Regions from separate parts of the Homo sapiens genome. Here region 1 is linked to region 2. The links come from fine-mapping of genetic effects on gene expression. A gene starts in region 2. The other region holds a variant in brackets. All regions are shown on one strand. Distances are between the middles of the regions. Region 1 overlaps SCN8A (sodium voltage-gated channel alpha subunit 8). Region 2 holds the start of FIGNL2-DT (FIGNL2 divergent transcript).

Region 1 (5,366 bases), 110 kb before region 2:
TTTTTTCTACATTCTTTTTTAGTATGAATAGCTTTTTTAAATTCTTTGAGTAATTTAAAAGGAAAAGGCTCAAATGTAGCTGTAATATTTCCCTGTTGATCTGGGGGGTTTGTTCTAACAGGGAACCGCCAAACCTCTAAATCACCCTCTCGTATAGCTTGCTGAATTCCTGCCTGAATAGAACTAAGAGCCGTCACTCGAGGTGCCGCTCGAAGAGTCACTGGGGCAACTACTTTTTGCCCAATGTCCTCCGGAAAAGAAAGATCCGGGGGGTCATTTTCTTCAAAATAATAAGGAGGGGGTGCAGAAGGGTAGGGATGAACCTCTCCTTCCTTTGCCACTTTAGCTTTAGCTGGCAAATAAACCTGCTCTGTAACCTCTTCTGTTACTTCACTATTCTCTTGTTCCTCCTCATTATCAGTGTGAAAAAGTTCTAAGGTGAAACGAACCAGACCCCATCCCTGTCCCATTGTTACCCTGAGGCATCCGAGCTCCCCTTCTTACTCACCATGGGGACTGCTTTAAGAGTACTCGGGTGTCCTCCAGCTAGTTTTCTGTTCCAAGCATCGCTTCAGCAACCCTTTGACCTGGATTTGAGCCCCCACGAATGGACGCCACTTGCGCGAGACCAGCTCGGTCAGGGAGACCCTAACCCAGTGGCGCTAGAGGAATTAAAGACACACACACACAGAAATATAGAAGTGTGAAGTGGGAAATCAGGGGTCTCACAGCCTTCGGAGCTGGGAGCCCCAAACAGAGATTTACCCGCGTATTTATTAACAGCAAACCAGTCATTAGCATTGTTTCTATAGATATTAAATTAACTAAAAGTATCCCTTTTGGGAAACTAAGGGAAGGGCCGAATTAAAGGAGTAGGTTGGGCTGGTTAACTGCAGCAGGAGCATGTTCTTAAGGCACAGATCGCTCATGCTATTGTTTGTGGCTTAAGAATGCCTTTAAGTGGTTTTCCACCCTGGGCGGGCCAGGTGTTCCTTGCCCTCATTCCCGTAAACCCACAACCTTCCAGCTTGGGCGTTAGGGCCATTATGAACATGTTACAGTGCTGCAGAGATTTTGTTTATGGCCAGTTTTGGGGCCAGTTTATGGCCAGATTTTGGGGGGCTTGCTCCCAACAAGGTGCTGATAGCTTTAAACTTCCCTCTTACTAGTGCTTGCACTGTATCCCATAGGTTTTGTTATGTTGTGTTTCTGCTATTTGTTTCAAGAAACTTTTCAGTTTCCTTCTTAATTTCTTCATTGACTTTGACCCACTGGTCATTCAGGAGCGTATTTAATCTCCATGTGTTTGTATCATTTCCAAAATTCCTCTTATTGATTTCTGGTTTTATTCAAAGATGCTTGATATTGTGGTAAAAAATGCTGGATATTTCAAATTTTTTGAGTATTTTAAGACTTATTTGTGACCTAACATATGGTCTGTCCTTGAGAATAATCCATGTGCTAAGGGCAATAATGTGTATTCTGTAGCCTTTGGATGAAATGTTCTGTAAATATCTCTTAGGTCCATTTGTTCTATTAGGTCATCCTTAGTGTAGGTTAAGTCCAGTGTTTCTTTGTTGATTTTCTGTCTGGGAGATCTGTCCAGTGCTGAAAGTGGGGTGTTGAAGTCTCTAACTGTTATTGTATTGAGGTCTCTTTCTCTTTGAGACAAGGTCTTGCTCTGTTATCCAGGTTGGAGTGGAGTGGTGCGATCTCAGCCCGCTGCAGCCTCAACCTTACAGGCTCAAGTGATCCTCCTGCCTCAGCCCTCTGATTAGCTGGGACTACAGGCATGCACCACCATGCCTGGCTAATTTTTGTATTTTTTTGTAGAGACAGAGTTTTGCCATGTTTCCCAGGCTGGTCTCAAACTCCTGGGCTCCAGAAACCCACCCACCTGGACCTCCCAAAGTGCTGGGATTATGGGCATGAGCTATTGTGCCTAGCCTGAGGTCTATCTCTTTAGCTATAATAATATTTGCTTTACATATTTGGGTGTTCCAGTGTTGGGTACATGTATATTTATAATTGCTATATCCTTTTGCTAGACTGACCCCTTTATCATTATGTACTAGCGATCTCTGTCTCTTCTTATAATTTTTGTCTTAAAATCTATTTTTTCTAATGTAAGTATAGCTACTACTTCTGCTCTTTTTTGGTTTCCATTGGCATGGAATATCTTTTTCCATCCATTTATTCTCAGTCTGTGTATCTTTATAGGTGAAGTGTGTTTCTTGTAGGCAGCAGATCATTGGGTCTTATTTTTTCATGCATTTAGCCACTCTATGTCTTTTTATTGGAGAGTTTAGTTTATTTACATTCAGTGTTATTACTGATAAGTTGGGACTTACTCCTGCCATTTTGTCATTTGTTTTCTGGTTGTTTTGCGGTCTTCTTTTACTTCTTCCCTTCCTTCCTTGTCTTCCCCTTAGTGAAGGTTATTTTCTCTGGTGGTATGACTTAATTTCTTGCTTTTTATTTTTTGTGTATCCGTTGTGTGTTTTTCAATTCGAGGCTACCATGAGGCTTGCAAATATTATTAATGTCTCATAATCCATTATTTTATTTTATTTTTATTTATTTATTTTTTGAGACAGAGTTTCACTCTTGTTGCCCAGGCTGGAACACAATGGTGTGATCT[C/T]GGCTCACTGCAACCTCCACCTCCTAAGTGATTCTCCAGCCTCAGCCCCCCAAGTAGCTGGGATTACAAGCATGTGCCACCACGCCCGGCTAATTTTGTATTTTTAGTAGAGACGGGCTTTCTCCATGTTGGTCAGACTGGTCTCAAACTTCTGACCTCAGGTGATCCGCCCACCTCGACCTCCTAGAGTGCTGGGATTACAGGCGTGAGCCACTGCACCTGGCATAACCCATTATTTTAAACTGATGACAACTTAACACTGATTGCATAAACAAACATGCAAAAAGAAAACTAATAAAAACTGTACACTTTAACTTCATCCCTCTGCTTTTTAACTTTTTGTTGTTTCTCTTTATGTCTTATTGTACTATGTCTTGAAAAGTTGTTGTAGTTATTATTTATATTGGCTTATCATAACACTGTAATTATGGTATGTGGGAGTTTACATGCCACAATTACAGTGTTACAATATTCTGTGTTTTTCTGTATGCCTACTATTACCAGTGAGTTTTGTATCTTCAGATGATTTCTTCTTGCCGTTAACATCCTCTCTTCTTTCAGATGGAAGAACTCCTTTTAGCAGTTCCTGTAGGACAGGTCTGGTGTTGATGAAATCTCTCAGCTTTTGCTTGTCTGGGAAGGTCTTTATTTCTCCTTCATGCTTGAAGGATATTTTTGCCGGATATAGTGTTCTAGGGTAAAAGTTTCTTTCCCTCAGCACTTTAAATATATCATTACCACTTTCTCCTAGCCTGTAAGGTTTTTCACTGAAAGGCCAGCTGCTAGATTTATTGGAGCTCCATTGTATGTTTTTTTTTTTCTTTTCTCTTGCTGCTTTTAGGATCCTTTCTTTATCCTTGACCTTTGGGAGTTTTGTTATTAGATGCCTTGAGGTAGTCTTCTTTTGGTTAAATCTGCTTGGTGTTCTATAATCTTCTTGTACTTGAATGTTGATATCTTTCTCTAGGTTTGGCAAGTTTTCTGTTATTATTCCTTTGAATAAACTTTCTATCCGTATCTCTTTCTCTACGTCCTTTTTAAGGCCAATAACTCTAAGATTTTCCCTTTTGAGGCTATTTGCTAGATCTTGCAGGTGTGCTTCGTTTTGTTGTTGTTGTTGTTCTTTTTTCTTTTGTCTCCTCTGAGTATTTTCAAATAGCCTGTCTTCAAGCTCATTAATTCTTTCTTCTGTCTGATCAATTCTCTTATTAAGAGACTCTAATGCATTGTTTAGTATTCAGTTGCATTTTCCAACTGTAGAGTTTCTGCTTGATTGTTTATAATTATTTCAGTCTCTTTGTTAAATTTATCTGATAGAATGCTGAATTCCTTCTCTGTGTTATCTTGAATTTCCTTGAGTTTCATCAATATAGTTCTTTTGAATTCCCTGTCTGAAAGGTCACATATCTCTGTTTCTCCAGGATTGGTCCCTGGTACCTTATTTAGTTCTTTTGGTGAGGCCATGTTTTCCTGCATGATCTTGATGCTTGTAGATGTTTGTTGGTGTTTGGGCATTGACAAGCTAGGTATTTTTTATAGTCTTCGCAATCTGGGCTTGTTTGTGCCTGTCCTTCTTCAGAAGGCTTTCTAGGTATTCGAAGGAATTTGAGCCCCGAGTCCAATAATGCTGTGGTTTTTGCAGATTCATAGAAATACCACCTTGGTGGTCTTGGATAATAAAGATCTGGAAGAATTCTCTGGATTACGAGACAAAGATTTGTTCTTTTTCCTCACTTTCTCCCAAACAAATGGAGTCTCTTTTTCTGTGCTGAGCCACCTTGAACTGGAGTGTGTTGATGTAAGCACCCCTCTGGCCATTACTGCTGAGACTGCTGGGTCAGACTTGAAGCCAGCACAGCACAGGGTCTCGCCCAAGGCCCGCTGTAACCACTACATGGCTGCCACCTGTGTTCACTCAGGGCCCTAGGGCTCTATAGTCAGCAGGTGGTGAAGCCAGCCAGGTTTGTATCCTCCCCTTCAGGGCAGCAAGTTCCCCCAGGTCCCAGGTGGGTACAGACATGTTGTCCGGAAGCCAGGGATTGGAGCAAAAAGCCTTAGAGATTTCTTAGCACTTTGGGAGTCCAAGGTGGGTGGATCACCTGAGGCCAGGAGTTTGATACCAGCCTGGCCAACATGGTGAAACCCATCAAGAGGACAGGGACCATGTTGTATGTGTTGTTCGCCACTGTATCCACACCACTTAGCAAACAATAAGTATTTGTTTAAATAAAATTAAATTTTAGCTGGGCATGGTGGCTCACATCTGTAATCCCAGCGTTTTGGAAGGCTGAGGTGGGAGGATCACTTGAGGCCAGGAGTTCCAGACCAGCCTGGATAACATGGCGAAACCTTGTCTTTACTAAAAAATACAAAAATTAGCCGGGTGTGCTTGTGTATGCCTGTAATCCCAGCTATTCAGGAGGCTGAGGTGGGAAAATTGCTTGAACCTCAGAGGCAGAGGTTGCGGTAAGCCGAGATCATGCCACTGCATTCCAGCCCGAGCGACAGAGCAGACTCTCAAAAAGCAAAAACAAAAAACCTTAGAGATTTGCCTGATGTTCTATTCTGCAGCTATGCTGGCACTCAAACCACAATACAAAGTCCTTCCTGCTCTTCTCTCCTTTTTCCACAGGCAGGAAGCCTCTTCCTGTGGCCACCACCACAAGTCATTCTTACATACACAGATGTTAGTGTAGTAATGCAGCAAGGAATTCCCAGGGAAATC
Region 2 (5,366 bases):
CTGGAGCTTTGCAGAGCCATGCTCCTTCCAGGAACCTGGTTTTCATTAAATCGGGTAAAGGAGTCGATAACCGCCAAGTCCAGGAGAGGCAAAGTTCTGCTAGAAGGCACAGGGAAGGTGAGGGAGACCAGCCTGTCTCTTGCCCTCCCTGGCTGACCGACGGCAGGGGGAGGGGAAGGCAGGGCTCCTAAGGGTCCAGCAATGGCAGCAGTCGGAGCTTGGGGGGAGAGTCGGGGGAGTCCTGGCCCAGATAATAAGCAATTGTTAATGTGATCCATATGGATCCTGACTGGCCTCTCTGTTTAACAGAATGATAATGGCAGGGAAAGAATGCTGGTCTGTGGGGAAGGGAAGGGGCAAAGTCCTCCCCGGACTTGGGGGGGTGGGGTAGGGTCATGGGGAGGAGAAGGAGGCAAATAAGGGAAAGGGAGAGGAGGAGCCCCACCCAGGGGTCTCCACCACCCAAGAGCACAGAGCTGTTTACCTGAAGGTGGCCAGATTCCATGCTATGCAGACTGCCTGGCTAAAGGCCCTTACAAAACCCCTTTTATTCAGCCAACCAATATTTATGGAGCACCCACAAGGTGTCAAGCCCTGTGGCAAGCCCACTGGGGGCAGGGCCAGGGAGTACATGCTCCATTTCAGTCAAAGCCCTGAGTGGACCCCGCCACAAAGGCGGAAGGGAGCACAGGTGCAGGCCACGGAGGGAGGAGCAAGTGACAGAAGCTCGGGGCTGGGGAGGTGATGCGGAGGAGGTGCGCATCCGAGTTGGGCCCTGAAGAATAAGGAGGTTGTGGAAAGACAGGGACAATGAGGAAGGCATTTGGCTGGAGGAACAGCGGGAGCAAAGGCAGAGAGGCGTGAAATTGCGTGGAGAGAGCCCTAGATCTCAGCAATAAAGCTGCGGCCCAGGCAGGGCAGGGAGGGGAGTCCTGATCCATAAAAAGCTGTGGCCATGGGTGAGCAGAAGAAAGGCAGGAAAGGGCTCTGCGACGCCACACTCAGTCTGGGTGGCTCTCCCCAGCCTTCGCCCAGGCTGGTACTGGAATTGACAGTTACGGGATCCTCAGCCCAGCCCTCAGCCATACCACGGCCAGAGAATCGGGCAGGGCCTCCGAAGCCAAACTCATTTCTGTGTCTCTCAGCCCCTTCTGTTTCTTCTTCTGGGGCGGGGGTGGGGGCAACAGGAATCCCCCCGAGGAATGCGGGTCCTCTAGGCCTCCCCAGGAGCAACTCCTCTGCCCCACACAGCCTAATTCCCTTTGGCCCAAAAGGGCTTCGCCCAGAAGATATTACAGCGAGGACACGAGGGTCGCTCCCGTCTGCCTTGGATGCCAATGGAATCAAGTGGAAAGAAATGAAATGGTGTTAAACATGGGAAAGGGGATTTACGAGGCCTGTCACCCGTCCAGCCCAGCCACCCCAGCAAGCCCCGCCCCTTTCCTCGCCCACCCCAGGAAGTCCCGCCCCGCCCCCTGCCCGCAGCTCGCGCGGCCGCCCGGTACCCGCGTCCCACAGCTGGGTGGCGGCGGCACCACAGCACCGGGCAGCCCGGCGCGCCCGTCCTTGGGGGCTCAGGCACAGCGGGGAATGGCGTCGGTTCCGGACTGAGAGGCTCGGGGAGGCTTTAGGAGGATGCTATGGGATTTCGGGGTAGGCTCCGGGAGGGTCTGGGACTCCCTCTGCAGGGTCAGAGGGTTTCGCACCGTGGCATCTGCGGGCCCAGCCCACTCCAGAGACTGGGCGGCTCCACAGGGGAGGCCCCACGGCCCAGGAACCGGGAAGCCCACCTGCGCCGTAAGCCCAGAGTTGGGCTGGAACCGGGTCCCCACTCCTCGCTGCCGGGCGGAAAGCAGGAGACCGCTCCGCCGCCACAGCCCGTGCGGACAACACAAACATTCTTCAGTCCTCTATTCTCCTCCAAATTAGGTATCCATGGAGACAGGGCCGGCAGCCTGACAGCCCTACGGCCTAATCCTGATTTAGTGACCGTCCCTTTAACAGCCCACCCACCCGTCCACCCACCCCTGCGCTCCGGGCCGCCGCTGGGCGCAGGGTCCAGGCCGCGCGCTCTCTGCCCCGCGCAGACCCCTTCCCAGGCCTCCTCCTCTGGCGGGGGCAGGGGGACCAGCGGGGCTGGGGAAGGGCACCAGCATTTGCTGATCACCTACAGGGTGCTCAGCAATCTGCGAAGGACCCTCTGCAGCGGCGGGGGGGTTGCTAGCATGCGAATCTCTGTGTAGAACAGGAGAGGGCTCTTGCGGTGGGGAAGTTTGAGGGGCCCTCTCTGGAGAGCTGGGCGCTCCGGGGGTCCCCCTTGTTGCCTGTAGCCCCAGGGTGAAGGTGAGTACAGCCTCCTACAACCCCCTGACTCTGAGACGCGGGCTCTGTTCTCCCGGGCCAGAGGAGAAGACATGAAGAGGGTGGGTGTTAGGGGCGCGGGGACCCTAAGTAGCCTCGGCCTCCTGTCACTGCCCCGTCACCATGCTGGGGAATCTCCGGGCCAGTAACCCAGCCCCCACCCCTCCCACACACACACACAGGGGCCGCTGGACAAAGACCTGACGGAGTGGGAGGGGCCTGCGGGCCGGCCCTCGGGCTCCGGACGCTGGATCCTTCTGGGACCCGAACCCGCAAACCTTGGCTCCCCACCCCCAGGCCAGCAGACGCCCCCGAGCCGGCTGCTCGCTTTCGCTGCAGCCCCCGCACCAGAGGGGGCTGCGAGACGGGTGCCCGTCGGCGGCCGGGCGGCTATCCCCTGCTCTGCCCGCCCCCTCCCCCCGAGAAGTGACCCTCGGCTCCCACGTACCCGCTAGGGTCTCTCGCCGGCCCTGCCCTCCGACCCCCGCCGAGCTGAACCCCGCGACTAGCAGCCCCCGCCCTCTCGGCCCTCTCCGGCCCCGGGCCGGCGGACAAAGCTCCGGACACCCTGACCGAACGGTCACCTCCCCCCGCCCCATCCCGGCCCGCCCGCGGCCCCGTACCTCGGCATCACGGCCGGGTCCTAGGTGAGTGTGCGCGGCCTGGGGGCGCGTCCGGCCCGGGGACCGGGGCGGCGGCGCGGGCCGGGGGCGACAGGCCTGGGCTGGGGGGCAGTGGCGCTCACCATCCTGGAGCCGCTGCTGCTGCGGCTGCTGCGGCCGCCGCGGGCGGGAGCGGGACTGGGCAGTGGGGGTGGCCGGACAAGGGGCGGCCCCGGCTCCCCCCGCAGGAAAGACCCCCACCCCCACCCCCGCCTCCCCTCGCCCGCCCCCAGGGCCCTCCCTCGCAGGCCCTCCCTCCCCTCCCCTTTCCCTGCTCCTCCCTCTCCTAGTGCCCCTCTCTTCCCCCAGCTCCCGCCCCTTCTCTGGCCCCTCCACCCCCGGCTTCTTCCCCGCCCTCCCCCACCTCGCCCCCGCCCCGCCCCCACCTCCCCTGGGCTCGCCCAGCCCCTCCTTGCCACCCTCCCGGCTGGCCCCGCCCCCTCCCGCCCCTGGCTCTAAAATAAATTAGCCACAGAGGGGAAAAAAGAGCAAGTGACCCTCGGTGTGGAGAGTGTCCTTCGCCACTCTCAGACCCGTCCGCCCCGCCTCTCCCGGCCGTCGGAGCGGGAAGCTGGGGTTGGGGTGGGGGTCGGGCCGGCGGGTAGGGGTGGGGGACGGCATGGGGACGGGGCCGAGGCCGGGACTGAGCAGCCCAGCCCGTCGAGCGTGTCCGCTGGATGTGGGCGGCTTCCTGGGTCGAAGGGCAAAGGGGAAGGCAGCCGGCCTGGGCCCGCCCCGTCCGCGGGCCGCCCCAGACCCCCTTTCCCAGGACTGCCTTGGCCCCCTGGCCCCAGTCTGGAGGACTCTTGCTCACTTCCTCCGCCCCCAGGTGAGCTGAGAACCCACTGCGCGCGGGACTCTGCTGCGCCTGCCCTCCCGGGCTGCAGAGGGCAGGACGCACCGCCAGGCAAGGCCGCGGCTCTGCGCTGATGCCACTCCGGGAGCGGGTGGCTGCGGGGGAGGAGGGCGAGCACTGGACGGGGGCAGCGGAGTGTAGGGTGTGAGATCTAAACAGAGGGCTCCACTGGAGGGCTTGCCCAGAAGGCGGCAGTCACACTGGGCCAAGCAGGATGACTGGCAGGAAGAAAAGATGAGGGATGAATCCCAGACCTCTAGTCCACTGAGAGTGTCCAAAGACATCCGTTCAATAGATACATACTGAGTGTTAACTTTGTGCCAAACATTGGACTGTGCACCAGGGATACCCAAGAGAGTCCAAGAGGCACAGCCCTGTCTTCCTGGAGCTCCCAGTCGAAGGGTAGACAGAATTCTGCCCGACACACACACACTCAAGGCTTCATCAGGGATAAAGGCCAGGAACCGGCTTTGCCCCAGGAGAAGGTAGGAGGAGGGCTGTGCTGATGATGGAGGGTCCAGAGAACCTTCCTGCTGTTGAGCCTCCAGATGTCCCAAGGCAATCCTGTTTCCACCCAAGGGCAGTGCTTAAGGGTCCTCTCTCCTGAGAGCTTGTTTCCCTTTTGAGTGGCTGCCTAGCCTGAGTGTCAGTAGGGCAAGATTGGCCCTCACCCACTAGCCTGTAGAACTCCAAACACTACCCCCTCCCTTCTTCTAATGCAGATTCCCCTGCAGGCTCTGGGGTCTGACAGGTCTGGGGCACTCCTTTAGGTGCCACTCAGGGAAACAGAAGGGGAGGGCCTCAGTAGCTCCCACTTCTTTTCCAGCCCACATTTGGAAGCAACCGGCACCCACGCAGGTTCTGGAACTTGCCAAGGTCAGTGTCTTTTCCACCTCCAGAATTATCTCTTCCTTGCCACTCCCCACCCCCAGGGCTCTGCCCTGGCACAGGAGGAGGGACGTGTCAAGGCTCAGAGTGCTAGAGTAGCCCCTGGCTTCAGAATCAGGCAGGATGAAGGGAGCCACAACCACCATGCTAGGAGACTGGAACCCTTGCTGGAGGAACAATCCCAGGATACCAGCTGGAAGGAACTCCTTGGCTATTTCCTTATTGTTGGAGCACTGGAGGCCCAGAGAGGAGAAGTGACACACTTGGGGTCACACAGCAAAGCTGGATCTAGAATCCACTGCACTTTTTCCACCCCTACCTGTCAGGTTCCCTGACAGCCAGAGACAGGAACTAAGGGAAAGACTAATATCCTTATGAGCTGGGTGCCTCAGCCAGCAGGATTAGTGCCAGGAAGCCAAGTCTGGCATTGCCAATGGGGATCCTGCTCCACCATGCTCCAGGGAAGGGGGGATGACAGGAGTGGGGTTGGACTGAGGCGCTCAGTGTGAAGGAAGGAATTGATCATGCGCTCCCCTGGAGCGGGGATCCGGTTCTCCTTCATCCTCTAGGAGTCCGGGAGTAAAGGAAGGACAAGCTTA

Evidence for each region. PIP is the estimated chance that this variant, and not a neighbour inherited with it, causes the effect. A credible set is the group of variants that fine-mapping cannot tell apart.
Region 1: its variant is the best candidate, but not a certain one, in a credible set for the expression of FIGNL2-DT in whole blood (INTERVAL, PIP 0.55).

Annotation. Positions count from the first base shown.
Region 1 is chr12:51,739,138-51,744,503 of GRCh38, forward strand. The region is part of intron 12 of SCN8A (sodium voltage-gated channel alpha subunit 8); the gene reads left to right. Among named protein-coding and RNA genes, the nearest start is that of TMDD1, 73 kb to the right of the region's middle. The variant C/T (reference allele first, on the strand shown) is at 2,642.
Region 2 is chr12:51,845,556-51,850,921 of GRCh38, forward strand. FIGNL2-DT (FIGNL2 divergent transcript) reads left to right here and starts at 2,668. Exons shown (of 3, transcript NR_135803.1): 1 at 2,668-3,008; 2 at 4,706-4,755. It overlaps FIGNL2 (fidgetin like 2), which reads right to left and starts at 3,163. Exons shown (of 2, transcript NM_001384995.1): 1 at 2,985-3,163. RefSeq lists enhancers at 1-69, 70-778, 1,489-2,197, 2,396-3,387.